4 linked regions of the Homo sapiens genome follow. The protein of the gene in region 3 interacts with the protein of the main gene of each other region in a biochemical or structural test. Each region holds a gene or a part of one and is shown on either strand. Other genes may lie near its edges.

The links.
Region 1: of the proteins of PTPN1 (region 3) and PRKCA, one has a biochemical effect on the other in vitro, tested with the Homo sapiens proteins (one study listed by BioGRID).
Region 2: the proteins of PTPN1 (region 3) and NTRK2 form a complex in vitro, tested with the Homo sapiens proteins (2 studies listed by BioGRID, with this or other methods).
Region 4: the proteins of PTPN1 (region 3) and BCAR1 form a complex in vitro, tested with the Homo sapiens proteins (3 studies listed by BioGRID and IntAct, with this or other methods).

Annotation. Positions count from the first base shown.
Region 1 is NC_000017.11:66,305,601-66,312,621, reverse strand, and holds part of PRKCA (protein kinase C alpha type), read right to left. Parts: intron 6,527-7,021; coding exon 6,495-6,526; intron 1-6,494. UniProt on the Homo sapiens protein: Calcium-activated, phospholipid- and diacylglycerol (DAG)-dependent serine/threonine-protein kinase that is involved in positive and negative regulation of cell proliferation, apoptosis, differentiation, migration and adhesion, tumorigenesis, cardiac hypertrophy, angiogenesis, platelet function and inflammation, by directly phosphorylating targets such as RAF1, BCL2, CSPG4, TNNT2/CTNT, or activating signaling cascade involving MAPK1/3 (ERK1/2) and RAP1GAP.
Region 2 is NC_000009.12:84,665,811-84,672,739, reverse strand, and holds the start of NTRK2 (BDNF/NT-3 growth factors receptor isoform a precursor), read right to left. Parts: upstream 3,012-6,929; 5' UTR 2,852-3,011; exon of another isoform or gene 2,519-2,851; intron 2,392-2,518; exon of another isoform or gene 2,364-2,391; 5' UTR 1,992-2,363; coding exon 1,780-1,991; intron 650-1,779; exon of another isoform or gene 569-649; intron 1-568. UniProt on the Homo sapiens protein: Receptor tyrosine kinase involved in the development and the maturation of the central and the peripheral nervous systems through regulation of neuron survival, proliferation, migration, differentiation, and synapse formation and plasticity.
Region 3 is NC_000020.11:50,505,391-50,513,396, reverse strand, and holds the start of PTPN1 (tyrosine-protein phosphatase non-receptor type 1), read right to left. Parts: upstream 3,015-8,006; 5' UTR 2,870-3,014; coding exon 2,807-2,869; intron 1-2,806. UniProt on the Homo sapiens protein: Tyrosine-protein phosphatase which acts as a regulator of endoplasmic reticulum unfolded protein response. Mediates dephosphorylation of EIF2AK3/PERK; inactivating the protein kinase activity of EIF2AK3/PERK.
Region 4 is NC_000016.10:75,234,609-75,241,629, reverse strand, and holds part of BCAR1 (breast cancer anti-estrogen resistance protein 1), read left to right. Parts: intron 1-2,969; exon of another isoform or gene 2,970-3,536; coding exon of another isoform or gene 3,537-3,539; intron 3,540-4,285; coding exon 4,286-4,447; intron 4,448-4,631; coding exon 4,632-4,748; coding exon of another isoform or gene 4,749-4,802; intron 4,803-5,643; coding exon 5,644-6,741; intron 6,742-7,021. UniProt on the Homo sapiens protein: Docking protein which plays a central coordinating role for tyrosine kinase-based signaling related to cell adhesion. Implicated in induction of cell migration and cell branching. Involved in the BCAR3-mediated inhibition of TGFB signaling.

The sequences.
Region 1 (7,021 bases), on a different chromosome or scaffold from region 3:
AGGAAAGAATTGAAACAAGCACTTTCTGGGAAACTGCAACTTATTCACAATGACCCAGGGATAGGAAGAAGGAAAGCATTGTAGGTAAGTCTGAAGAGGTCAGGCAGGAGACTTTAAGAGTCTTCCAATGTCTTGCTAAGGAGTTGGACTTATCCTGATAGGGCAGCTGTGAAACTAATGCTATTTGGAAATGGAATACTCTGAATCTGCATGAAGAAAAACAATTGAGCAAGTGAGGAGTTAATGTGTCTAAAAACTTAAATTTCAATAGTATCATCCAGGAGAGTGAAATACTCGGAGGGCAGGAAACCACCAAAAAATGTAAAGAAAAGGAAACTCTGGTTGGGTGCAGTGGCCCACGCCTGTAATCCCAGCACTTTGGGAGGCTGAAACAGGAGGATCACCTAAGGTCTGGAGTTCAAGACCAGCCTGGCCAATATGGTGAAACTCCGTCTCTACTAAAAATACAAAAATTAGCTGGGCATGGTGGCATGCATCTGTAATCCCAGCTATTCAGGAGGCTGAGGCAGAAGAATTGCTTGAACCCAGGAGGCAGAGGTTGCAGTGAGCCAAAGTTGCACCATTGCACCGCAGCCTGGGAGACAAGAGCGAGACTCCATCTCAAAAAAATAAAATAATATAAAGAAAAGGAAACTCAAACATCAGATTTATCTGCAAAAGTAAACATTTATTCGGCTTTCACGACCTATGAGGATAAATAGCCTCTCCATATGCTACAACCCCAGCTTCTGGTGGCGGGGGTAGGATTGATGTGTGAATAAATTAACGAAACACTTTCACTTACCGTATAAAGTAAAAGAGTAGCAATTCAGAAAGTCATTAATCAGAAATCATTTTATAACAAGTATATAGCACCAAATGGGAACACTCAACACTAGTTTTATCTAACCATCCCTACTTCTAAGTATTAATGCAGTTTTACGGAGGAAAAACACTGTTGAAAAGAAAAATAGCATTTTTTGTTATTGTTTGGTTTTGTTTTTTGAGACAGGCTCTCACTCTGTCGCCCAGGCTGGAATGCAGTGGCACGATCACACCTCATTGCATCCTCGACCTCCCAGGCTCAAGTGATCCTCCCACCTCAGCTTCCCAAGTAGCTGAGACCACGGGTGCTGCACCACCATGCCCAGCTACTTTTTCTATTTTTTGTAGCGATGGGGTTTTGCCATGTTGCCCGGGCTGGTCTTAAAGTTCTGGGCTCAAGCAATTCGACCGCCTCAACCTTCCAAAGTGCTGGGATGACAGGCATGAGCCACTGCACCCAACCACAGAAAGGCAGTTCTAACTGTCCACCTCCACCACTTTTCTCTGTAATTCAGGCATTACTGACCATTTCATCTTTGAGACTGAGATAATGCTTTGACCTGGCATTACTACAAAAACTCTAGGTTTCAAATTATACTCAGTCTTCCATGCATTCTATCTTTTTGGAACTAAACCTCCAAGAGTTTATCTCTAATTAACATAACTTACAATTTGGGGATGGGTAACCAATCAAAACTGAGGTACCAAGGGCTGAACCCCTCCTGAAGACAGAATAATGGAAAACCCTGGCACTAACTTTGAAAACCAGCGGGCAGCCAGAGGCCACACAGTGCAAGCAGCGGTCAATGCAGTACATAGGGAGGACAGATCCTCTGCTCAAGTTGGCCATAGGGAGGACAGACAGATCCTCTGCTCAATCTGGCCTACCTCATGATTCCACCCAACTTGTACCTCAGTCTCCTATCTCCTGGTACTTGGTGTCCATACAACTCAGCTCTCAGAACACCGTGGCGGATGAGGACAACGGCGCATCCCTTTTCTGAAAGGCTGGTGACTCACTCGCTACTGCCCCCTTTCTGTTTAAAGGCCACCTTCCTTAAGTAGTCTTGTTTTCTGGAATCCCTCAGCTCACACAGCCAAGAGGAGACTCATTCTTTTTTTTCTTCCCTTAAACACCAACTTTCATTCTTACAGAAGGAATAGAAATCACCACCCTGCTCAGATGAGCCAATGCAAATACCTTCTCTGAAACAGGCCTTCAAAACAAAATATCAAAGGGGAAGAGTAGCTGATTTTTTAACCCTTAACACTGAAAAATGCAGAGCTTCAGTTGAAGTCACAGATGAAGTACAATATGTGTTATGTTCTTAGCAGGGAAATGACTCAAGATTCAAAACAACTTTAGTAGCATCATTGAAAGCACAAAAATGTAAATTCTTTCCCAGCAGACCCCTCAAAATCCAGTGACGATCATTCAGGGACAACAGGCTCCTGTTGGTCATGGTTACTGACAGAGCTTAATTCTCACGCTGTCTCTTGAGTATCTTCACCTCATCAAAGAGCCTAGGTTTGTAGCACATTTTCATTTGTGATATTAAAAGACAAAGAATAGCAAAAAAAAAAAAAAATTAGAGAAAACAAGTGGAGGTTAGGCAGATGAAACAAACTATGTTAACTGTTTGGCATTTGAAATAGGCAGGTCACATTTTGAGAGGCTGTTTCTACCACTGTAATTAGAGAAGTGCATGGGTGTTGCTCCGCCTAAGGAGGGGGAAAAAAATCGAGTTGGCTCTTTCCCTTTTCCAGTACTGAAAGCAGTGGATAACACTGTTTCAGCTCCACTGCCCCAGAGAAAGAGTGCATTTGAGCAGTACAGTGGATCGCTCTGTTCTCTGATGACTGACTTTGGAAGTAGCCAGTGCAAGACAGAAACTACCAACTGGAAACAGACCTTCCAGACTTGAAACTCAACTTCATCAATGTCCATACCACACAAATCTACTTCCTGTCTTCTTCTCCTTTCTCTGACGGGGGAAAAAAAAAGTGGGCAAGGACTAGATCTCTGCTAGTTTTATGGAGATGAAATGAGTGCTAGGGGTACATCAAGCAAAAAAACATTCAACCAAAAATAAGAAGGCAACTCCAAGTCATGTAAAAAGGGTCACTTCAGAGCTGTGAAGGAACACGCTTGTCTTTATCTCTGAGGACCTTAAGAAAAGTATTTCCCACTTGGAAATCTACTACACACTCATCTTTCTCCTCCCCAGAAGAATGGCCCTTGGTTTCACCGTTTCAGGCAGCAAATTCTGACAACGGGATCCTGTGTTACTTGCCCTGGTAATATCAGTTTTCAGGATTGTATACCTATATTGCAATATAAAGAAGAATGGCACAGAGTCCATGAAGGGAACATGAGAATAAGCCAATAAGTCTCTCCAGAGAAACGCCCTTCCCTTCCCCAAGATACAACATAAATGAAAGTAGAAATAACTTTAGTACTTCACATGCTTGTAAGATGCCATTCTCTAAATGGCATAAATTACAAACCCAGTTTTAAGGACTAAAACTCACTTATTTCTTTAGTCTTCAAATACCTACTCACCATTTACTAAGTAAAATGAAGATAAATATTTTGGATCTAAAGCTATATTACTTACTGCATGAATATGTGAGTCACTGGGAGCATACACACCCCTCTAGTTAAAAAAAGAAAAACTATGCTTGCTGCAGATATTTTACCTACTAACCAAAGCAACATACTACATACTAGTGGACAGAAAGCACTGCCTCATCGGGTAAAAATAATCTGATGTATGAGGAATACAAAAAGCAGTTTCAAACTCCAGCTGTCATTTCCAGAGAGTGTGTTGCCAAAGGTATGAATGAGAATGAGTTATTCTCCTGCAGAAGAATGATGTTCTATCAAACAAAACCGAGGAAAAAAAAAACAAAATTAGAGAGCATTAAAAGAAAACTTCACTCTACGATAGTCAGATGTTAATAGAAAGATTAATTTTGCGGTAGGAGCCAAAACAGAAAATGCTGGGTAACTATATTTGTGGGATTAAAAGCATCACCCTGAGGTAACATATCCTTCTTAAGTTACAACAAACAATAAAATACAATGGACTAGCATATGCCTACTAGAAGTCAAATACAGATGAGACACAGTAAACAAAATATAACAAGCAGACAGCATGTTACAAATAAATGTATACTATTGGAAAAGGTCTCTGTGAACTGTAATTTGTAAACGCACTAGGGTAATTCATTATTTAAAGAGATCTGAGGTTAAATTCTTCACCAAAGCAAAGAACTATATAGAAAGCACATAGTCACTTCTCTAATTTGTCTGGTTTGTAAATCCAGAGTTTCAAATATTAGGTAGAGTAAGGCAATTCACACAACACAAATGGCTAAAACACATTTGAAAAAAAAAGTTCAAGCTCACCCATAATGCAGGAGATGGAAATCTAAAAGAGGGGCCCCTTTTCACCTACCAGATTGGTAAAAAATGTAAAAGATGTATATTACCCGATATCTTCACTGGTAAAAATGAAGAGGAAGTCCCATTAATACAAAAAAATGTGCACTGGAACTCTTGAAGAGCAATTTAGCAGCACCCGTTAAAATGTAAGATGCACACATACACACTTCTGGCTATCTATTGTAGAAATACCTATACTAGTGTCCAATAATGCTCTTGACAAAGGTATTTGTACTAGTAAGAACGAATTACAAAATACCCCTTGATAGAGGAATGGGTGAATAAATTGGATACATCCACACATGCAGCCACTAAGCAGAGTAAGGCAGAACTGATGCTTTGATGTGGAAGAATATCCACCATCTACTGCTGAGTGAAAAGAGCAAGTTGCAAAGTCGTATAAAATTTTGATCTCCTTTTAAAAACTAAGTATGTGTGAGTGAGTGAACGAATGGTTGTCTCAAACAGAAGTTATCTCTGGAGGAGGGAAAAGAGAAGCATATGCAATTTCACTTTTTATTTTATACAGTTTAAAATTTTTATGGGTTTCACTTTTTTAATTTAGGTAAAAGGGAGTTATGTTGCCATGAAACTATTAATCTGCTAATCCACTAAAAGTTCAAGAGATGCTCTGGGGGAAATCATGCAAAACCCCCTAGAGCCTAGTAATACGGCCACTGTGATTTCCACAAAATCTGCTCAGATGAGCGGGTCTAAGAGGAACCAACCTTATTCTAATCAACCTTATTTTTTATTTATGCAGAAAATGATAAAAGTTTTAGAACAAGACAACCACTTTCTCCCAGACAAGCAGTATGGAGAAGATTCAGTACAAAAATTTTCTTATAGATTTATGTAAGTCCCCACCCAAACGAAAAATATCACCAAAAATAACAGATGTCAATCACATTGGCCCAGAACCTTACATCTTTAAACTCCCTAAAGTCATGTTCAAGCCTAGGCTCAAATCTCACCCATAAAGTTCAGGCCCACAACTTTGAGAACTAGAAAGAGCTACATTTTCCTTTCATCTTTTGTAGAGACTGGTATAACACATCTTTCTCTTTCTTCTCTTTTTAAAAGGAATATCCCTTGATTTTCAAATGCAACTCTGAAAATGATACACTCAGTAGGGGTTTTAAGCACATCTTGGAGAAAGGAAGGTAGAATATTAAATGAATAATCATACCATAAAATACTCCCATCTAAAATATGTTTAGAAAATGTATACAAGAAACAAGTTCACAAATTTGAACTAGTTTTTAAAAGGCAACCAATTTACTAGCACAATCTCAAAGTTGTAAAAAAGTACACAGTGCCTTTCTCTCTAATGCACTTAATATTAAACAGTGTTAGGATAATATTTTCCAGGCTAGAATGTACTTTCTGCTTGCCCTAATAATAAATCTATGCCCAGATGGGAAATGGAACCAGAACTAAATAAACACAATATAGACAATGAGCAGGAGAGCCAGAAAAGTTAGCTAATGAGCCTGTGATGCCTTCACAAGCTCTAAAGTGGGTTTCTTCAAAAAGGAAAAGTCAAACAATTAGAATGGAGAGTACAAAAAGTTAGATATTCGATGTGTGTGAAATGCAATTACAGATCAGAGGGTGAAGCAAATGGATTTCTTTCTGTATGTGATGGCTGATATCACGTTTTGTCAGATATGTAAGCTGAAAGGAAAGCATGCTACATAGTCATACCATAGAAATCAGTCATCAAATCATCAACAAAACTTTAAAACATGCAAACTTTGTTCTCGATGACAACTGGTATTCTAAACAAAACAAACCCTTACTAGAATGAAATACGGCCTAAAATTAGTTGCAGTGAGTCCAACTCAATACATAAGTAAAAGCGATGAAGAATAAAAACAAAGAGGAAGAACAAGGAAGAAAAGCCACTTGAATACAAAGTGATTCCATTTTTTTCTCAACACCCACACAAAGACAGCAGTTTCTGACAAGAATGTTCTCGGCAAAAAATAAAATTACAGAAAGGCTTTTTTTTTTTTTTTCCAATGAGAAAAAGGCAGCTCTATATGCAGATTAGTAGGCCCCAATTATTTTTTAAGGCCCAAATTTACAGCCCTCATATTTCAAAATTATCTAAATAACATTTTTTTATTGGAAAGAAAATATGACTGGAAATAATGTTCTTGTTTGGAATGCTTATTTCATGTTGTGCTTGAAAATAAAACCAAAAGTGGTAGCTTACCTTGGCACTGGAAGCCTTGTTTCCCAAACCCCCTGAAAAACAAAAACAAGAACAAAATATCTTAACATATTTTCTGTTGGATAGCATATTTTAAACAAGTTATGTGACCAAGTACTCTACCACTAAAGGTTTGTATGTGAAACCCAATGATTTAATAGAAAAAAACATACCTAAATATCTAGTCAGATTACTGTGTAAATTCAACCTTGGGGGGAAAAAAATCTTGCCTATAAAGGATCACTGAACTATTTCGATGTATCAACCTTTTTTCCAATTTTTTATACTATGTTATCAATACTAAAATTTCAAGACAAGAACATGACTGTATATTCAAACTTGTTGGCTACAACACAATATTCAAGTAACAAAACAGTTTATGGTTAAAATTGTAAAAGGAAGTTGCTTATTTTGTTCCTGAAGACCAAATGAAAATTGTTTTTATCTCCCTAAAGATAACAAAGTGGCTTCTTTTTGTTTAAAATATCACATGTCTAGAAACTGCCAAACGGCATCACTTTTAACATTTA
Region 2 (6,929 bases), on a different chromosome or scaffold from region 3:
GATAGTTTTATTTCCTTTTTCTCAGATCATGGCCTTAAAATTATCAAACAGAAAAACAAAGTGAAAATGATCAGCCCTATCTTCTTTCTTTCTTCATTATATGCATCTATCACCTAAAACAGAATTTTAAAAGCACCACCACACACACACAACAATATCTGACTGTGGAAGGCACTCCCCATAATCTCAAAACAGTCAGAAGCACTCTGAATTCCATATGGCCTTCTCCATCTAACTACTGACACCCCATCTCATGAAAAAGATTCTGACAAAAGGCCACAGACTTTGGACCAGCCTGGTAAGCCTCAACCAGCCCAGTCCAAGACCACCACAGTTGGGGCCCTATCCACCCTTGCTCTCCGCTCTTGGCTCCTGCTCTCCTTGCCAAAAAGATAGAGATCCTAGCACCCTGGACTCAGCCCGACAGTTGGCTGCTCCCGACACATCTCAGCTATGCTAGGCCTGAACATTCCCCTCTGCTCTGCTGTCATTTCCTTTTGCCTGAGGCTTACACCATAAGCATCAGCAGCAGAACAGGCAACAGAGACTAGGAAGGTCTCTTACTTACATTAAAAAACAGGTTATCTTGGTCAACTACGTTGGCAGAAACATGGTTGTATGTTTTCTGTGGAAGGAAAAATGCATGCGCACTCGACAACCGGAAGGCCACAGCCCAAGCCCCACTTTAGGGCTGCCTATCTCAGTATCAAACACAATAAGGAAAACTGGGAGAAACTTTGCCTTACAATCTTCCACGTATACGAATAAAATCTCATGTTAATGAGATGTATGGAATGACAGCATCCTTCAGGAAAAAAATGATAACAATAACAGTCCAGTAGAGGTGACACAGGAATGCTAGAGAAAGGACTGGCAAGTTCTTGCTTGGTGATGCATTTGTCACAAAGCATCAGAAAAGGAGAATAGAAATACACAGTTCTGTTTCTTCAAGCCACAACAAGCTCAAACATTTCCAGGGACACAGAGGTCCAATGCTAAAGCCAGCCTTCATCAGAGTTCTACCCAGTGCTTTATCATCCAACCTAGTCCTGGGAAATTATTCAATGGGCAATTAAGAGTTATAATCCAAGTGGTCTCAAAATCATATCTCTGGGAAGTCAAGTCCAAATTAAATTAGACCAGGCTTTTAGGCTTCCAACTATCATATTTTTTTCTTTTGAGCGAGTGCATTTCAACACTCAGAACTTCTCCTCTTACAGATCATTTTCAAGGCCATCTCTGGATGCCATCTCCTAAGCAAAATCCGATATATAAAATGAAAAGGGAAATTGGTTAACTTAAATCTCAAAAAAGATGTTAAGGGAGAGACTGTCACTTCCCTCAACAGATTTGGGAAAGTTAATTATTTTAACCTCTTTTCTAGTGAATATTAATGGAACTTCTAACACAACATACACACAGCACTTTATGAAACAAAAATGCCCAAAACTAAGTTAGTGCATACTGAAAGCCTAAAGCACACCCAGCAGAGCTTTGAAATATAAAAAGCATAGTGAGTTCCTTCCCACGAGGAATAAATATATAATCGGCATATGTATATCTATATTTGAAACTTATTCTAAAGTGTCACACTTCTCCCTGCACTAGCAGTCCCAAGCCAGTGAAACAGCAGGTAACTGACAGATGACCCTGTCCTGCATCCCTTGTCTTTGACTTCTCCCCACTCTTGGGACAGCATTCACTTCCAGGACCTACCCACCTGGCCAGCTCGGGCCCTAGGGGCAAGGAGAAAAAGGAGGAAAAGCTCCAGGAACTCACATTTCGGTGATGTTCTCAGGATCTACACTGTTAGGCTCCAATCTCGGAAATGCCACGATGCCAGGAGAAGGGTCGCTGCACCAGATCCGAGAGGCACTGCATTTGCAGGACGTGGGACAGGCGAAAGCGGCCCTCCAGAAGCCCACAACCAGCCAGCAGAAGCCCCAGAGCCGCGCCATGGCGGGTCCATGCCACCTTATCCAGGACGACATCCCTAGCAGCCAGTGCCAGCCCGAGTGCCTGTCCCCGCGCTGCACCGGCCGCTTTCCCCCACCCGTGCGGGGAGGCCTTCCCTGCGCTTGCGGCTCTCTTAACTCCTCGGTGCTTGTTGCGGGCGTGCCGAGTCCAGCTTATCAGAGGCTGAGCTGGTCCGGAGCGAAGAGTGTTCCGGCAGGCGGCAGGGTTCACAGTGGCCCCGGCATAGCGAACCGCTTTACAGGGGGGCGCTACCGCTGCTCGGAGCTCCGCGGCGGCCGTCGCTGCATGGCCCGGCGCGCCGGGCACCGACCGGCGGCGCTCCCGGGACTCTCTGGGGCGCAGATTCCTTGTTAGATGCGAATGGGGGTCCGGTATGCACCTCGAGGCTGAGGACAAACAGACACGCGTAAGACTGAGCGTAGGACCCCCAACACCACTAATTGGGGCACTCTCCCTCTCTGCTCGCGTCATCCCCACCCCGACCCCAGCCCGGAGACTGTGGATGGATGAGTGCCCAGCTCCGGCCCAGGAATCAACTTGCCCCGCGATGGCACTGACGCCGCTGGAGCCACCAGTGTGCCCACTCTCTCTTCGAGCCTGAGGCCAAGGGAGGGGAGGTAGGGAAAGGGTCCCCAAGACAGGATTCCATGGTACAGGCCGGGCGAAGGACCCTTTAAAGGGGAATGCGGAGACTGCCGGCGGCTTTGGCTCCGCGACGGGGCCCCCGAATGATGCTGCAGAATCCGCCACGGCCGCTGGGTGCCGGTGGCGCGGGCAGGTGGCGCGGCACGTCCCACCTGGGGAGTAGCCGAGGCCGCCCCAGGGGGAGACAGTGAGGGCCGAGGCGACCGAGGGCACTATCTGCGCTGCTCACCCGGGCTCCGGCGCCTCACGCCCGCCGGCGGCGCCTGGGTCCAGGCTCCTGCTACCGCCGGGGACTGAGCGCGTAGAGCGCGAGCGAAGCAGCCAGCGAGGCTCCTGCTCCAACCCAATTCCGGGAGCCGCCGCCGCCGCCTCTGCTACTGCTGGCGAAGTGACGTGAGGGCTGACGCAGAGCAGGGGCAGAAACTCCAGAAAATTAGTCTGAAATCCAAAAACACACACACGCTCATACACACACAAACCCATAACACCCTCCAGACAAAAGCACCAGGGAGGGGAGGGGAATCTGGGGGCGAGCAGGGAGGAGGGAGGCATCGGTGCCACTGGCCAGAAGCAGACAGCAGCAGCATGTGGGAGTTCACACACGCGCGCACACACGCACACATCCTGGCCGTGTAGACATGCACGCGCGTGCGTGTGTGTGTCTGTGTGTGTGTGTGCATTTACATCCAGGTACCTCTAAGATGAACCGTTCCTCCGTTCGACGCCTCCCGGTCCCTAATTCACACCACAGTCTCTTCTACAATCGCGGTAGAGGCTGTCTCCCTTTTTGAAATGGAAACCGTGCTTGGTTCAGCTCTGAAAAATGCGCTGATTCTTATTATAGGAATCCTCCCTCCCTTCTCCCTCCCCGCGTTCTCCTTTCCCACCCTGCCTAAAAGGGAGGGCAAGCTATCCTAAAAATAAATAAATGTTGTAAACACCAAAACGTGTTCTGCATTGGTAACCAAGGATCACCGCCCCCATTCCGGGCCACCTATTTGGGGATCGGTGGTTTTGGAGGGGCTTCCTGTTGGTGCTTTTGCAGAGGGAAGGGAGTCTCCAAACACAATTCTAGCTCTCTAAGTGGGTCTTTTTCCTGCCGTTTTCTGCCATCACACGCCCGGGAAATAGAGACATGTGAGGGGAAGGGAGCGCGCCTGATGCGTATTCTAAATGCTCGGTGGCCACCCTGGCCTGTCCGATGTGTGGCGCCGCGTCATTTTCTCTCATCCTTTAACCTGACGGGATGTAGCCATTCCCAGATCGTGGATTCACTCCCCGCGATGCCCACCCCCACGTAGGGCATCCCAAGCCCTTGCTCCCCTGCCGTACCTTGCGCGTGTTCATGTGTGCTAGGGTGTGCGCGAACGCGTGCCCTGCGCCCGCGCTGCCCGGAGCACGATATGCATCCAGCTACGAAGAAGCCAGGCGCGGGCAGAGCCTCGGGGTCTCACTAGGGACAAATTAGGCGATCCGGGAGGGTCGGGTGACAAACCGTAACTATTCTGCGGGTGCAGTTAAATGATGGCTGCGGGGCATTTGCAAGCCTTGTCTGAGAATCCGTCTTCCCTTTTGCGGCTCGGAATCTGTTTTTCCGCAGTCATTTAAAAGAGAACGGGGAAAATACACCGCAGTGCCTGACACTTCCGAGGGCTCTGGTGCCCCCGCGCGGGGAGAGAGCGCCCGGCACGCTCCGGAGCACCAGCCCATGGCCCGGGTCGCGGCGGGCACAGCGCTGGGGGCGCGCTCTGGCGCCAGATGCGCAACCAGCGGCGCCCGACGCCTGCGCGTCCCTGCCCGGCCGGTGCGCGGCTCTCCTGGCCTCGCCGAGCTCCTGCCCGGGGGAAAAAGGCGGGCAATCCTTCTCTCTCGAGAGAGCAATGGGTTGGAGTCTCGTTCAAAATATAGTAATAGTCACTGATCTACCCGCAGAGTTTGGGGATGGGAAGGATCAAGAAACCGAACGTTAGAGTGAATGCTCGGATCTAGGCCAAGCGTTAAATATTACGAAGGGAACGTAAAACATCTATTGGGGCTTTTTTGTACAGATCCTGGGCGCTGAGTGTAACCGCGGGAATTCTTGGACAGCACCCAAAAATCTTGCTGCAGGTCCCGAAAGCAAGGCCAGCAGGTCTATCTCACCACTGTCACTCGGCTGTAACACACATCGAGTGGTGAACGGCCAGGCTGAAGTTTACTCCTGAGCTGCGCCTCTATTCTCTACTAGGTGAGGACGCGCCAAGGAAGAGACGCCAAGGGCAAAAATGACCTGGTCTCAGACGCACGTAAAACTCCGCCTGTCTTGTCAGTGAACCTTAAGCGGAGAAGCCCCTGAGGAACACTTGGGGAAGGAAGGAGTGTGTGCGTAATCACCCACATTTCTCTCACACTCCCATACTCTGAGCCCATTTTTCTAAGAAACGGCCCATTTTCGCCCTAGTGGCTGCAGCATGTCAATGCGGTATGGAGAATAGGCAGTCTTACGGTGGTTTGTACACCAGAAGAGTCTAATTATGTTGGAATATTTGTAGAGTTTCTATTAGAGTAAATATATGCTACTATTATAGTTGGATTCTAAATATATTCCACTATCTCCCACTTAAAATTAGGATTTGCGGTCCTACTTCTAATCACCCTACTTCTGCTCTACTATTTCAACCATAGCAGTTTGTCCTTTGGACAGATAATTTACTTATTATATATATTTTTAAAATTTCTCCCAGAAGAATGTACACTCCATGAAGGCAGGGATTTTTATCTATTTTATTCATTGATATCTCTCAAGGACATAGTAGGTGTTAAAATATATGTGTATTTTTAATGAATAAATAAAATAAAATAAAGGAGATCTCACTTTCTTAACCTCTAAGTCTGCAAGAACCTGGATAATTCCCCCAGACACGCTCCTTCTCACCTTCACAATTTCAAATCTTCCTTGCGTTCTGAGTGCTCCTAGCACTGCTTAAAACCTTGCCTTACTTTCTGTCTCATTTAGTAGCCAGATAGGCTTCAGTACTGGGCCAGAGAGGGCCTCCCACTTATTCATGCTAGTAACTGAACACCTCCATGGACAGTGTCTAGAACACACTGGTGATCAGTAGCTATTTCTTAACTGATAGAATTGTGGATCTACCTCGATTTTAAGACCTATAAGATATGTCCCAGAGATCACTTCAAGGATTCTCAGATCACACCTTTGTAAGAGATGATGAACATTTTTCAGATGAACAATATAGAGATGACTTTTTTCTAGATCCCTTGAATGCAGGCATAGAAATTAAGTGCTGCAGGTTCCTACCTGCACTGAACCATGATGTACCTAGAGCAATGTTTCTCAAACTCTTTTGACCATGATCCACAATAAGAAATGCCTTTTATATCACAACCCAATGAACACATACATAAAGGCATATACTAACTAAAAAAGAAGTGTCATAATACAAAACTTACTTACCCTTAGTACATAAACTAATATATCCTTTTCTCTTCTACACCATTTCATTTCTGAATGCATGTAATAACTCAATACATTGATTTTAACATCCAATACTGAGTTGTAAAAAAATAAGCAAGAATACTGCCAACTTCTGATTAAAATGGAGTAATAGGGAACGGATTTGTTCTCTCAATCATATGACCAAAACACTGAACAAAATATATTAAAGTTAAGACAATGGATATAAGACAATGAAGGTCATCGTTCAGAGAGAAGGAACCCAGGCAGAGGCCATCTACCTAAGTTGAGGAGACTAGCTCAAGAGAAATCAAGGAGTGCAGAGTTCACAAGACAGAGTAGCAAAGAGAAGAGTATTGCCCAGAAAGAACTATGGACATCTGCAGAGGGTTCCTCTCAAGTATTCAGCATAGTGCTGATTGACACATGCAGGTAATAAAGCTACCTGAGGCCAGAGAAAGAAGCACGCAAAAGATTAAAGCGAATAGAGTTAAAACAAATCAAAAGGAAAATGTAAAACACTATGTATCAGAATTTGTGTGATACAACTAAAGCAGTTTTTAGAGGGAATTTTATAGCACTAAATTCCTGTATCAGGAAAGAAGAAAGATCTCTAACCAATGACCTCAGCTTCCACCTTAAGAAATCAGAGGGAAAAAAAGAACAAATTAAACACGAGGTAAGCAGAAGAGAAGAAATAATACAGAGCAGAGTGGAAAATAATGAAATAGAAAACATAAAACCAATAGAGAAAATTAATTAAATCAAGAGCTGGTTCTTTGTGAAGATCAATAAAAACAGCTAGTCCAACTGATCAGAAATAAAAAAGAGAAAACACAAAGGACCAATAACA
Region 3 (8,006 bases):
CTCATTCTAGCTCAGTAAAATCAATCTCTTTTCCTCATCTGGGCTCATTCTCTCCTCTTAGACAGCTAGGCCCAATCAAGCAACCGGATGATTTGAAAGTGTTTAAATGCTAGAAAACAATGTTTAAAGCCATCTATATACACTATCAAAGCTGACTTTTTATAGACCTAGATGCTTATTAGCATCTATGCTATTCATTAGCATTAAAGATTAAAAATACGGTTATGCTCACTTTATCAAACTGACCTAGCAAAGAATCTCTGCCTAAAAAGTTTGTTTTCCAAGCTGCCACATTCCTCAGCACTCAAAAGTCCTCTTCACTCTTTGTTCTTTTCCCAATAGTTTTCAAGTTTTTACATCTTTTTGTTCTAATCAGAAAATAAGTTAGAATAACTGACCTGCTTACCAAGTTGTAAGCAAAAATTACATTATTCTCTGATCACAATAGGCTAGGCAAGCTCAAAGTATGACTTTGTATAAGGCTGCCCTCATTTCAACATGCTATAAAGTATTAATTTTTTTAAACTTCCATTTTCTATCAATTGTAAACACATTCTTTGAATCCTTGAAAAATAATGGTTTTGGTAAAGCGATACACACCTTGGAAAGTTAGCCACTTTAGACTCAAGGTCATCTGAACTCTGTTTCAGAAAACGCTACAGTTGTATGACAAAGAGCTACTTTTACACTTAGGAGAAAAGCTTCTGATTTCAAGATCTTAGAAAAGAAAAATATCCATACAGTGGAGGTGAGAAAAGCTGGCCCTGACAATTCTCTAAGACCAAAAGAAACTACCTCAGGGAATGTGGCAATCCATTAAGAAGCAGTGAAAATCTCAACACCTTGACTAACTTGTGGGGTTTAATTGTGGCAGAAAAACTTAAGAACAATGAAGGAAATGAATTGAAGACTGACACACTCCATGCTAGTTGCATGCTGAATACAATTTTAACCATGCTTGGGTGACAGGTCAACCCACTCTGGCTTAAAATTGTAAGAAATAAAATTCAACTAAGAACTAAGTTACAATACGTATTTCTTGTTGTCAACTCAGTCAATTTCAGTGGAAAAGACTTCTCTCCACAATGCTTCCACTGTGATGGGGTGTATCATAATCAACTCCAACACTTCAGACCAACAATTTTCATTTAAAGACATTTTAGACTCTACTGCATTAAACTGATGCAGAAAATTTGTCTACACAGTCTCAAAGTCCCTTATGGAATTCATTCAGCTAATTCAGAGACCAGATATGGCATACAAATTTTATATACTGATCAATCATACTTATTAGTATATAGATTACAGTGGTTAGAAATATTAGTCTAGCAGAAACTAATATACACACTACAGTCCAAATAAAAAGAATCCTGTCAAATAAGCTTGATGTAAATCCACATGAAAATCAAGGCTGCCAAAAAAAAAGGCTTTTGTTAGTCAAGCATACCAAAGAACTGCTTAAACCTTTTTTCCTTTCTAAGCGGAGCTCAAAATAGATTTTAATACTACAGCTGATGGATCTCACAATTTGCCTTTTGAGCCTATAAGCTGAAAACAGAATCATCTGCTGTCTCCCTTTACACAAGTAACAAAATCTCTCTATTCTGTATATCGCTTATTTAAGATACTGTGCAAGTGTGGTTTTAGTTAATCTTAACAACCCCCGCAATGACATTTAATTGGGAGTATGTATCTTATTCAGCTGCTTGTGAAAGGAAGAGCTCTTTGTGTTTTTAACTACTTGTTTTATAGATATATGAGAAACCCTCCTTTCCTAACTTTTTAACACACAAGGAGATGACTCCTAAGACAAGGTCATCTCTGCCACGACCAAAGACTAAGCTGCTCATTGAGGAAAGATGCTATTTTAGAGAGGGTTAAAACGTTAACCTTCCTGAGTCCCTGCCTGAAAGAATAATATCATGGCCCCAATGGAGTGGGTACCGCAGGCCTCCTGGCTAGAAGGTTCTTTAGCCCCATATTCTCACGGCTTTCTGCTCCTCTTGGTTCAGCTCACAAAGCAAATGTCTCCTCCTTTGACAGGCCTTCCCTGATCCCCTTCTCTAAGACAGCCGGCCTTCTATGCAGTCACCCTGTACCCCGTTAGGAAGTCGTTCTCTTCACAGCACCTGTCACTATCTGAAATTATTTGCTTTTGTGTTTGATTGCCCTATTCGACTCTAGGCCCCACTAAGGCTAGGATCTTGCCTGTCCTGATTAGCAAACACCACCTCCAATGCCTAAGCGGTGCCTAGCACAGAATAAGCTTGCCAACTCCTATCCAATAAATGAATGAACAGAAAGGGGAAAGGGGACTGTCATCTCTGGGACTCGACGCACACTGAGACTAGGGGAAAGGAAATGTGAAGGAGGGACGGGGGGAGTAACCTTTTCCCCCAGGGAGACAAAGGAAGAGAGTCTGAGGTGGTCCACTCCAGAAAAGGAAATAGTGGGGGTGCTAAATCACCCCAGGGGACAAAGAGTGGACAGGCAGGGGGCGGGGTCGGGGTGCGAGGGATTCGCGTTGAGAGCACAGACCGGCGGTCCCCCGGCTTGAGAGATCACCCGAGCTGGAGAACAGAAGGGAGGTGGGGGATCGAAGGGGGCTCCGACGCTGCGGCGAGAAACACGCCCGCCCCGGGGACAAAGGGTGGGGGGACGCAGTGCGTCGCTGTCCCATCGAATCCTCAAGCAGTAGGAGCGAGGCAGAGGGCAAGACCCAGAGGGAGTCTGGGGCCTGGAGGTCTGAGGGGATGTTCAAGCGGCCTAAGCGAAGGGCCCGCCACGCTCCGGGGCGCTCCCGCACCTGGTAAATGGCCGCCCAGCTCCCGGACTTGTCGATCTGCTCGAACTCCTTTTCCATCTCCATGACGGGCCAGGGCGGCTGCTGCGCCTCCTTCTCGGCCCACTGCGCCGTCTGCCGCTCTAGGCCGCGTCGCGCTCTTAGCCCCGAGGCCCGCTGCAATCCCCGACCCCTGCAGCTACCGCCGCCCTAGCCGCTGCTGCTTCTTCATGTCAACCGGCAGCCGGAACTACGCATCACGCCTGCCAGGGGCTCCGCCCCTGAAGCAGAAGGACCAATCAGCGATCGAGAATTTCGACAAGCACTTCCGCGGGGAGGAGCCGGGGGCGGTGCTAGGGGAAGTGGCCCCAGCACCGCGAGATATCTAATAGCGCGCGTTCCCTCCTCCGCTTTGGGGCTCTGGGCTCGGGCGCGGCGCGCGCCTGTTGCCTAGGCGACCCCGGGAGCCCCGCCCACGGCGCGTGGGCTCTCCAGGCCCGGGAGGGCATTGAGTTCCAGCCCCGACCCGGCCCGTTGAGTCACAGAGTGAGTGGCCTTAAAGTAGTCATGCACCTCCTTTCCTGCAGGGCCTGGGCCCCAGCCTCAGTAATCCAAGCTGGAGTATGGGAGGAGGGCACCGTGCTCTATTTCCTGCCTCCCAGCTCTGGCCAGATGTCTGCCCTTTTTTCATGAAACTCAGGAGTATCATGTTTCACTACGCTGCTGGGGAAGCCCACTGCTCTCTAAGGGTAGTGTCCCTGTCTGAAACGCAGAATTTCCACTTGGGTGCTGCAGGAATGAATGGATGGGGATGGAATGATTTTCAGTGTTTCCCGAAGTATCAAGGAACTCCTGCTCAGACTGAACTAAGCAGAGCACAAATTCCATGGTGCATTATGTTAAATAAAAATCATAGGAGCCCAGGCGCGGTGGCTTACATCTGTAATCCCAGCACTTTGGGAGGCAGAGGCAGGCGGATGTCTTGAGGCCAGGAGTTCCAGACCAGCCTGGGTAACAGAATCAGACCTCGTCACTACTAAAAGTTAAAAAATTAGCCGGTGTGGTGGGGCCCAGCTGCTGGGGAGGCTGAGGCAGGAAGATCACCTGAGCCCAGGAGGTGGAAGCTGCAGTGAGCTGTTTTGGCGCCACTGCACTCCACCTTGGGTGGCAGAGAGAGACCCTGTCTTGAAAAAAAAGGGCTGGGTGTGGTGGCTCACACCTGTAATCCCAGCACTTTGGGAGACCGACGCAGGTGGATCACCTGAGGTCAAGAGTCCGAGACCAGCCTGACCAACATGGTGAAACTCGGTTTCTGCTAAAAAAAAAAAAAAAAAAAAAAATTAGCCGGGCGTGGTGGCGCATGCCTGTAATCCCAGCTACTTGGGAGGCTGAGGCAGGAGAATCGCTTGAACCCTGGAGGCAGAGGTTGCAGTGAGCCAAGATAGCTCCACTGCACTCCAGCCTGGGCAACAAGAGCGAAACAAACAAACAAAAAAAGTTCTGGCATTAGGGTCTCAACAGACTAGACTAAAAATCAAAATGGAGTCACTCATGCTAAAGTTCTACATCATCAGACTGATAACCTTTCACAAAATCAGAAGAGAGATACACACCCTGATTTCCCAAGCAGACCGTTTTAATCAACATAATGAAGTTCCCTTTGCTTTAATCCTTACAACAAAAAGTAACCTGAAGTAACCCGATGCGACCAATCAGTTATTTCTCTCTTGTTCTGTTTCCCTGTTCCTGCCTTACAAGGAAAGTAACTTTGAAATGACCAATCTGCTTTTTGTTCTTTGTTTCTGCTTTTTTCAGCCCTTTTCTGTCTATAAAACCAACCTCCTCTGCTCAGCTCATTGGGACACTTGTGCTATTTTGAGGAATGAAGTCTTGCCCGATTCTAGAATCATGAATGAAGCCAATTAAGATGTTTAAGTTTGTTGTAATTTTGTCTTTTGACATTTACGGTCACCTGGGAAGTGTGTTGAATAATGCAGGTTCCTGGACCCATCGCCAAATGATTCAGATATCTTTGGTCTAGGGATGAGACCCGGAATCTGCATTTTCACCAACAACTCCAGCTGATTCTCGTACCTATGATCCTTAAAGCACCCATGAGCAGGTTGGTCAGGTTGCCTTCCTGCAGGCTCCAGTTTAAACCATCCCCCTCTGGGCCTGGCATGTCATGTGGACGTTGTGAATTCCAGGAGGTTTGAAAACCTGGAAGAGAGAATTGTCTTCATTCCGTGTTGCCCAGAGACACTGCCTGGTATTATCAGCTGAACTCCAGCTCATTCCTTGAGTGCTTGTGGCAGGCACTATGCCTGGAATTCTAAGTACACATTCCCATTCAATCTCCACAACAACCCTTCAATACAGGTGCTATTATTCCCATTTTATAAACGAGAAAACTGACTGGCTGTGGTGGCTCACGCCTGTAATCCCACCACTTTGGGAGGCCGTGGTGGGTGCATCACTTGAGGTCAGGAATTCGAGACCAGCCTGACAAGCATGGTGAAACCTCAACTCTACTAAAAATACAAAAATTAGCAGGGTGTGGTGGTGCATGCCTGTAATCCCAGCTACTCGGCAGGCTGAGGCACAAGAATCACTTCAACCTGGGAGGCAGAGGCTGCAGTGAGCTGAGATTGCACCACTGCACTCCAGCCTGGGCAACAGAGCAAGATCCTGTCTCAAAAAAAAAAAAAAAAATTAGCCGGCTGTGGTGGCGTGCACCTGTAGTCCCAGGTACTCAGGAGGCTGAGATGGGAGAATCACTTGAGCCTGGGAGATTGAGGCTGCAGTGAGCCATGATCATGTCACTGCACTCCAGCCTGGACGATAGAGTGAGACACTGTCTCAAAAAAAATAAATAAATAAAAATAGGCCAGGCCTGGTGGCTCACACCTGTAATCCTAGCACTTTGGGAGGCTGAGGCAGGTGGATCACCTAAGGTCAGGAGTTCAAGACCAGCCTGGCCAACATGGTGAAAGCCTGTCTCTACTAAAAACACAGAAAATAGATGGGTGTGGTGGTGCACACCTGTAATCCCAGCTAATTGGGAGGCTGAGGAAGGAGAATGGCTTGAACCTGGGAAGTGGAGGTTGCAGTGAGCCGAGATTGAACCACTGCACTCCAGCCTGTGCGACGGGAGAAAGATGCCATCTCAAAAAATAAATAAATAAATACAATAAATTAAATTAAAATAAAAATAAAAAATTAGATGAGGGGGGGACCGGGTGCGGTGACTCATGCCTGTAATCGCAGCACTTTGGGAGGCTAAGGCGGGTGATCGCCTGAGGTCAGGAGTTCGACACCAGCCTGATCAATATGGTGAAACCCCATCTCTACTAAAAATACAAAAAAATTAGCCAGCCATGGTGGCGTGTGATTGTAGACCCAGCTACTCGGGAGGCTGAGACAGGAGAATTGCTTGAACCTGGGAGGCAGAGGTTGCAGTGAGCCAAGATCACACCACTGCACTCGGGCCTGGGTGACAGAGCAAGACTCTGTCTTAAAAAAAAAAAATGGATGAGGAAACTGAAGCACAGAGAGACAAAATTACTTGTCCAGAGTAGCATTGCACATTGGTATGGAAACCTGCATTCTAGCCTGGTTTCCAGAGCCTGCTTTGGAGCCAGGCTTCGTGGGTCCAGGTTCCAGCTGAATAAATACTAGTGGTGCAAACTTGGGCAAATTTTCATTAGTCTCTGCTCTCCTTTGTAAAACAGAGATAATAAAAGTGCCCACCTCATAGGGCTGATGTGAAGGTTGGATGAGTACATATCATGCTCTTAGTATACTGAGTGGCTCAATAAATATTAACTGTCATTACTACATATCTTTAAATAATAGCAAATAAAGGAGATAAATGAAATGTTATTGAATACATGCAATTAGCTTGATCAGCAGTGTCTTTAGAAAGTGAGCATTCCATAGGGGAAAAATTAACAAAAATGCCCATTCCAGTGAAAACTGTGGGAGCTGCCACACTTGGAAGCTACCTAATTGAAGTCTTAGTTCCTTTAAGTGACTGTCCAGACTCCTGTGCTCCTCCCGCCCTTAAACCCTTATACTTTTTGGGTTCTGGTTTGTCTGGAACTCACAATCCTGAGAGCATCCTGGAACAAAAACAGGGCTGGTTCATTCCTGTCCCTGTATGTCAAGCTAAGTAAGTAAATAAATGCCCATCCCAAGCCCAAGTGGCCCTCACGCCTGCAGGGGGTGCTGCCCAGTGACTGGAGTAGCCTGTTTTGTTTTGTTTTGTTTTGTTTTGTTTTGTTTTGTTTTGTTTGAGTTAGAGTCTTGTTCTGTCACCCATGCTGGAGTGCAATGGCGTGATCTTGGCTCACTGCAACTTCCACCTCCCGGATTCAAGCGATTCTCCTGCCTCAGCCTTCTTAGTAGCTGAGGTTACAGGTGTGCGCCACCACGCCCAGCTGATTTTTGTACTTTTAGTAGAGATGGGGTTTTGCCATGTTGGCCAGGCTGATCTCGAACTCCTGACCTCAGGTGATCCGCGCGCCTCGGCCTCCCGAAGTGCTGGGATTACAGGTATGAGCCACTGCACCCAGCCTGGAGTAGCCTTTGAATGGGGCCGAAGCTATACACAGGGTCTTGGTGGGGGAGAGGGGAGTTGGAGGCAGCCTCAAGCAGGGTCCAAGTTTGGGCTGTTTAGAGGCTGTACTTGTTTCCAGTGGCTGCTGTAACAAATTACCACAAATTTGGTGGCTTCAAGTAACAGAAATTTATTCTCTCACAGTTCTTGAGGCCCAAAGTCCAAAATCAAGGTGTTGACAGTGCCGTGCTCCCTCTGAAGGCTCCAGGGGAGGGTCCTCCTTTGCATTCTCCAGCTTCTGGTAGCTCCAGTCATTACTTGGCTTGTGGCTGCCTCACTCTGATCCCTGCCTCTGTCTTGGCAGACTTTCTTCTCTGTATCTCCTGTTCTGCCTGCCCCATTTCCCTCTGCCCTGTTCCTACAAGGATGCCTCTCTTTGGATTCAGGGCTCATCCTATCCAGAACGATTTGGCAATCCCATCTCAAGATTCTTAAATTTATTACATGTGCAAAGACCCTTTTTCCAAATAGGTCACATTTACAGGTATGGGGACTTGGACATATCTTTTTGGAGGCCTCCACTCAATCTACTACAGTGGCAGAGAGTGAAACCTTGCCACAAATATTGATCCTGAACGAAACCCCTAATTTCAGGTACCAGCTAAT
Region 4 (7,021 bases), on a different chromosome or scaffold from region 3:
ATGGGCCACCAAGCCTGGCCACCAGGGGAACCTGGGTCACTGGCTCCCACTTCCTGCTCTACCTGCTCCTTCAGCCATCTGGTCAGAGGCGAGCCTGGCTGGCGTGGGGTGCCTGGGTGGGGGTGCTCCCAAACTGGCTTTAGCAAGAGGAGCAGGGTCCTGTTATCCCCTGGGGAGGCGGCAGGGAGCAGTGTCCTGTAGGGGAGCCTCAGGCCACAGTCCAGGTATACCCACACCCCACACAGATGAACACACGTGCATGATGCCTGTACCCCACAGATACGAACACCCATGCACACACCATATGCACGAACACACACATGCGCTACATGAATGTGCGTGAATACATGCACATATCTGCATCCCATACCCCATAAATGGACACACGTATACGCCCACACATGCGCACATCATATGCATGAACACGCACACACCCAAACCCCATATGTGTAAACACACGTGCATACTCACCCCACACACAGACACGTGTACGTCCACACATACAAAGCGTGTGCACCCACCAGTATCCCACAAACGTACAAATGTATGTGCGTATGCACACGCACACACAGTCCACACTGCACATGCCCCAAGGTCAGGCACATCCCCACCCCTCCTCTCCCGCCTTTGCAGTGAAGCTTGTCCTGGTGCGGCTGGAAGCCCTGTGGGCTGGGGAGCAGCAGCGAGACCCCCAGACAGAGCCCGGCCTCGAGGCTGTGTTTTGGCAGCTGTTCTGTCTCCGTCTCCGGCAGGGGGCCTGCTCTCAATTGCATCAGGGGCTCAGCCAGCTGGGTCCTTCTCTGCCCATGCCCACTGGTAGAGCTGCCCAGACCTGTGCCCCAAGGGCCCTGACCTGGCTGATGGCCCAGGAAGGAGAGCCCTGTGTCCTGGGCCTGGCTGCTCTCCCCCAGGAAACCTCCCCCAGTCTTGATTGTGTCTGCTTGTATTTTATGATCACAAAAGCAATGCTTGTTTGCTGTAGAAAATGCATAATGTATGGGAAAGTCTGGAGATGAAATTTTCCAATCGCGGTAATCACTGGGAAATTCTGGCATATTTTGTCTAGTATCTGCCCTGTGTTTCACAGATTTATACATGCAGTTTTGCATTTCAAAGTTGTAAATCCAACATTAGATATCAAAAGCATTTTGTTGAATTCTTAAAGCTTGTCCCTGAGCCGCCTTGGACTTTGCTGGGTTGCCCCCTCTGCTGGGGCGGGCCCTGGGCAGTTTCCGATTGCTCATGCCTTCATTACGGTGGCACGGCGGTAACACCTGGCTGCGGGACATCTGTGTCTGAACCTCCAGGTGCTCCCCTCCAAGCCTCAGGCCTGCCCCTCAAATGCCTGGGAAACTGAGTCTCCCAGTTCCAGGGTAGTGGTTGGCTGGGCTGAGAAGGAGCCCTTGCCAGGACTTCACGTGGGCGGGAGGGACACTGGCTCTCAGGAAGCCAAGAGGGTGAGTGACAAGGATGGTGGCCAGGAGGGTCAGAACCCTGGGCCCTGGAGCAGGGTCCAGTGGTTGCTAAGGTGGGAGCCTGGTGGCCCGTATGGCTGAGGGAGAGGTGAGGGCCACACTGGCACCGAGACTCTTTGGGCCGGGTGTGGGCTGTAGGAATCTGAGGGCAGAGGCTCTTTCATGGTCAGATGGGACCCCCGGGGGAAGGCGTCTGTGGGAGGTCGCTCAGGTAGTGCCCCTGGTCAGTGTCTAAGGAGACAGCCATGGCGTGAGGTCAGGCGTGCACGTGGTCCTGTCGGGCCTGTGTTTCACCCTCCTCGCCCTAGAAGCTTCATCTTGCCCCAGGCTCCCCTGTGCTGGGACCTCAGGCTGGGGTGCCTGGAGCTGGGGAGGGAGGGGAGCGGGCTATGGTGGTGGCCCCTCAGGCCACCATGACCCAGGTCGGGTGAGCCCCTCATGCTGGGGTGTGTCCTGGTGGCCGTGGTCGCAGCGCTCCTGTGGTGCTCCATTTCCCAAGGAGGAAACGAGGCTCCTGGATTGGGACCTGGGGGTGCCAGAGCCGGGAGCCAACCCAGGTCAGGGGCGACACCCATTTTGCAGAAGGGGGAGACCAGCCACTGAGCTCCAGGGCGGGGGCCCACTTTGTCCCCTTCCTCCGACCTGACACCTGCCTCTGGGGCCCTTACCGGGAGGCTGGGATGTATTCCTGAGTTCGCTTGTCCCCCCGCTTGATGCCTGATAGTAGGGGAGGAGAGGGGCGGCACCCTGGCCCTGGGGCTGCCTGGGTTCTGTGCGTGCACCTGGCAGTGGGCCTGTGCTGTGTTTTCTCTGCATTGTATGAGGCATGTGTGTCAGAGACCGTGTGGGTCTTATGTCAGTGACTGTGCCTCTGTTCTCTCCTCCTGGGCTCTGGCTGTGTTCCCCTAACCCCCGGGGGACCTCCACGGCCTGCTAGTGGGGTCTCAGGTGTGCAGCAGGGTGGCCTGTGATTAGCAGTGGGGCTGAGTCATTCCCCTAAAGAGCTTTTCCCCCTGGTGGCTGCGTTGCTCTGTTTTTCTAACAGAAACATTTGGTCACTGTGGCTGCCTACTGCCACCCGACTCAGCTCCAAGAGTGGCAGGCGGCCATTTGCCTGGGGAGGCAGGCCTGGGTCCAGCTGCACCCCTGGGCCTCACCGCGTGAGGTTGGGATGGCCACCGGCAGGGTGCTTTTGGAGGATGCTCATCCCTCCTGCTGGTGCTGGGTCCTGGCTGAGCCTTGAGGCTGGGTCCCCACCTGCCTTTGGGAGGCTGGGAGGCCTGGAGAAGCCTCAGGCCGTGCCTCGAGGCCCAGCCAACCTGCCACGTCCCTCCGCCCCGCCTGCCCCGCTGTTGGCAGGTCCCTGCATCTAAAAATAGTTCTGGAGGAGACTCAAGTCTGGGGCGCGTGGAGGGAGATGAGTCTGGAGAGGCAGCCGCCAAATCCACTCCCAGACGCACTGGAAGGGGGCGGGGACACCCCACGGAGGCCCCCAGCCGGGACTCTGCTACCAGGCGTGCTGGAGACCTAGTGGGCCCAGTTCTGCTGCGCTGCGGGGGGCTCTGCCAGGCCTGCGGCTGCTGGGGGGTGCTGGCGCCTCTGCCACCCCCATGCTCAGCGCCCCCCTCACAGCACCCTCAGCAAGCAGGGCTGGCTGCCTGCCTGCATTGGGAGGGCCTCTAGGGGTTCAGGGGCACTGGGCCCGGGGGAGGGGCTGCTTTGGCGCTGCTGCCCTGGGGGATGTGCGGGGAGGCCCTGAGTCAACCCTGTCCCAGACATCCCCTTTGATGAAGGAACAAAAGGTCTTTCAGTGGAGAGAGCTGAACAGGGAGCCTGGTGGTGGAGGCGTGTGGGCGCAGTGTGCCCGGGGGCTGGAGAATCCCACCAGGGAGGCCTTGACCTCCCCAAGGCAGGGAGACCTTCAGGGAAGGAGGCTGCCTGGCATGGCCCCTACCCGCTTCAGGCTGGTGCTGGTGAGGGGTCCTGTGGCCCTGGGCAGGCCATTGTGCTGCCTGCCTCTTCACCCACTGTGCGGGCCTTGGCTTCCCTGGGCTCTGGGTCATGGTAAGAGCACCTGGGGAGGGGAGGGCTGGCCCTGGACCCACTTCCCCCACTAGGCCTCATCCTTTCAGGTCGCTGGGGATCTTACCTGCTGCAGGCAGCTCCCCCGGGGCAGGCGCGGCAGGGAGGGGGCCTTGGTCCCAGCTGCTGCGCCCCCCAGCACACACCCAACCTGCCCCTCTGGCCCTGTCCTCCAGAGTCTCCCCATGCTGTGCTGTGGGGCAGGGGGTGCTAGGCTCTATCTGGTCCTGGGCCGGATGCAGTCCCCTGCTGGGCCAACCCTTCTGAGGAGGCTACAGCTAGGTGGTGTGGGCAGCAGACTCCCAGGCCTCCGACGTGGCCTCTTGTCCTGTGGGGCTAGGCGCCCCAGTAACGGGGGGTTCCTTGCCTGTGGGTAGTGCCCTCCAGAGCCAGGGCCTCAGCCCCTCACCCCACCGGTGTCATCAGCTCATACCCATGCTCCTCTGTGGAGCCTTCTGGGTCAGCAGGCTGTAGAGACGTTGGTGTCCTGGCCCAGGACGAGGCAGCTCTGAATAAAACCCAGAGTTCTTGCCGTACCTGGCACTGCGTTCTGCTAGAGGAAGGTCAGATGGTGCAGAGGGGGTGAGAACTGGCATCCTTGGGGAGCCCCGTCCCTTCCACCTGGTGTGCCCTGCCCACCTCCTAAAAGGACGTGGCTCCCAGGTGTGAGTGGAGCCTCCCTAAGGGCTGGTTTGAGGGCAGCAGTGAAGTCGGCTCTCTGCCCCCAGGTGGTGGTGCCCACCCGCGTGGGGCAGGGCTATGTATACGAGGCCGCCCAGCCGGAGCAGGACGAGTACGACATCCCGCGACACCTGCTGGCCCCGGGGCCACAGGACATCTATGATGTGCCCCCGGTTCGGGGGCTGCTTCCCAGCCAGTATGGCCAGGAGGTAGGTGTGGGGTGCGCAGCGGTGGGAGGGCAGGGCGGCAAGTCTGTGCCTCTGCTTGGCCCTGGGCCGAGAGCTGCATCTTCTCAGCCCCGGCCAGGCCTGGGGACGGTGCTGCGGGGTTCCCACCTTTCCTATTCCCCCAAGTGGCCCTGGCGCCGTTAACCCTGCACTGTTTCTGCCCCAGGTGTATGACACACCCCCCATGGCTGTCAAGGGTCCCAATGGCCGAGACCCGTTGCTGGAGGTGTATGACGTGCCCCCCAGTGTGGAGAAGGGCCTGCCACCGTCCAACCACCACGCAGTGAGCAAATGCCAGGGCAATGCCAGGGCCAGGCTGAGGCTGTGGGGTGTCTGGGTGTGTGCACAGGGGTGCTGACCAGTGTCTGCAGGGCTGGGGGTGGCGGGCAGGAAGAGACTGGCTCCAGACCCTGGTTCTGGATGGTTGACAGATGAGGAAATCAAGCTGTCTTCTGAGCCTCAGGTTCTTTGTCGGCAGAACCGCCTGTTGCGAGGCCTTCTCCATGAGCTCCTGAGAGGGTATCCGCAAGGTGACCACGGGATGTGTCATCTCACCTGGGATACTTCCAAGAGTGAAGGGGGGACTAGTAATTATGTGGGGGCATCAGGGACAAACCAGCACTGTCCTGGGCAAACCAGAATTTGGTCCCCTGATAATACACACAGAGCTCAGTCGCACACCTGCTGCAGAGTAGAAAGTTCACACGTGGTGGTGGTGCTGGGTGGTAACAGTGATGGTGGTGATGAGGTGGCAGCGGCGGTGATGGTGATGAAATCATGATATGATGGTGGTGGCAGTGGCAGTATCACAGCTAACCTTTCAGTGAGTGTCTGCAGTGACACAATTATGTGAATTAACACATGCAATTCTTTGGGAGGAAGCTCTCCCACCTTCAGGCACAGGGGTGGTCACCTGGCTCCAGAGCCGGCTCGTCCCAGAGCTGTCATGGATAGGAATTGTGAAGGATGTGTGTGCTAGGGCTGCGAGTGTGTGTGCGCGTGTGTGTGCCTGTGTGCGTGCCTCTGCATTTGTATGTGTGCCTGTGTGTGTGCGCGTGCCTCTGTGTGTGTGTCTGTATGTGTGTACGTGTGTGTGTGTGTGTGGCTGGGTGCTGCCCCCAGTCCCTGGGGTGGGCAGATGGACAGATGGACAGTCTTGACCACCGCTTGTCCCCCAGGTCTACGACGTTCCTCCATCGGTGAGCAAGGATGTGCCCGATGGCCCACTGCTGCGTGAGGAGACCTACGATGTGCCCCCCGCCTTCGCCAAGGCCAAGCCCTTTGACCCGGCCCGCACCCCACTGGTACTGGCTGCGCCCCCTCCAGACTCCCCGCCGGCCGAGGACGTGTATGACGTGCCGCCCCCGGCTCCTGACCTCTACGACGTGCCCCCTGGCTTGCGGCGGCCTGGCCCGGGCACCCTGTACGATGTGCCCCGTGAACGGGTGCTTCCTCCTGAGGTGGCTGATGGTGGCGTGGTCGACAGTGGTGTGTATGCGGTGCCTCCCCCAGCTGAACGTGAAGCCCCGGCAGAGGGCAAGCGCCTGTCGGCCTCCAGCACCGGCAGCACACGCAGCAGCCAGTCTGCGTCCTCCTTGGAGGTGGCAGGGCCGGGCCGGGAACCCCTGGAGCTGGAAGTTGCTGTGGAGGCCCTGGCACGGCTGCAGCAGGGTGTGAGCGCCACCGTTGCCCACCTTCTGGACCTGGCAGGCAGCGCCGGTGCGACTGGGAGCTGGCGTAGCCCCTCTGAGCCACAGGAGCCGCTGGTGCAGGACCTGCAGGCTGCTGTGGCCGCTGTCCAGAGTGCCGTCCACGAGCTGTTGGAGTTTGCCCGCAGCGCGGTGGGCAATGCTGCCCACACATCTGACCGTGCCCTGCATGCCAAGCTTAGCCGGCAGCTGCAGAAGATGGAGGACGTGCACCAGACGCTGGTGGCACATGGTCAGGCCCTCGACGCTGGCCGGGGAGGCTCTGGAGCCACCCTTGAGGACCTGGACCGGCTGGTGGCCTGCTCGCGGGCTGTGCCCGAGGACGCCAAGCAGCTGGCCTCCTTCCTGCACGGCAATGCCTCACTGCTCTTCAGACGGACCAAGGCCACTGCCCCGGGGCCTGAGGGGGGTGGCACCCTGCACCCCAACCCCACTGACAAGACCAGCAGCATCCAGTCACGACCCCTGCCCTCACCCCCTAAGTTCACCTCCCAGGACTCGCCAGATGGGCAGTACGAGAACAGCGAGGGGGGCTGGATGGAGGACTATGACTACGTCCACCTACAGGTGGGTGCCGCCTGCCCAGCCCCGGCTCCTCTTCTGCCACGCTGGGCTCCTGTGCTTAGGGGGAGATTTGTTCTCAGCTGGGGCCTGGTCCCTGGCAAGGCCCTGCACCCTCCTCTCACTTTGACCTCCCTCACCCCACATTGGCCCCATGTGCTAGGGTGGCCATGTCATCGAGCCCTTCGTTGAGTCCCTCGGGCTGGTATCTCTGGTGACCAGCAGCGGTGACTCTGCTGTTCTGTGTGGGGAGACAGATCTGCAGAAATGTGCACACACACAAGGA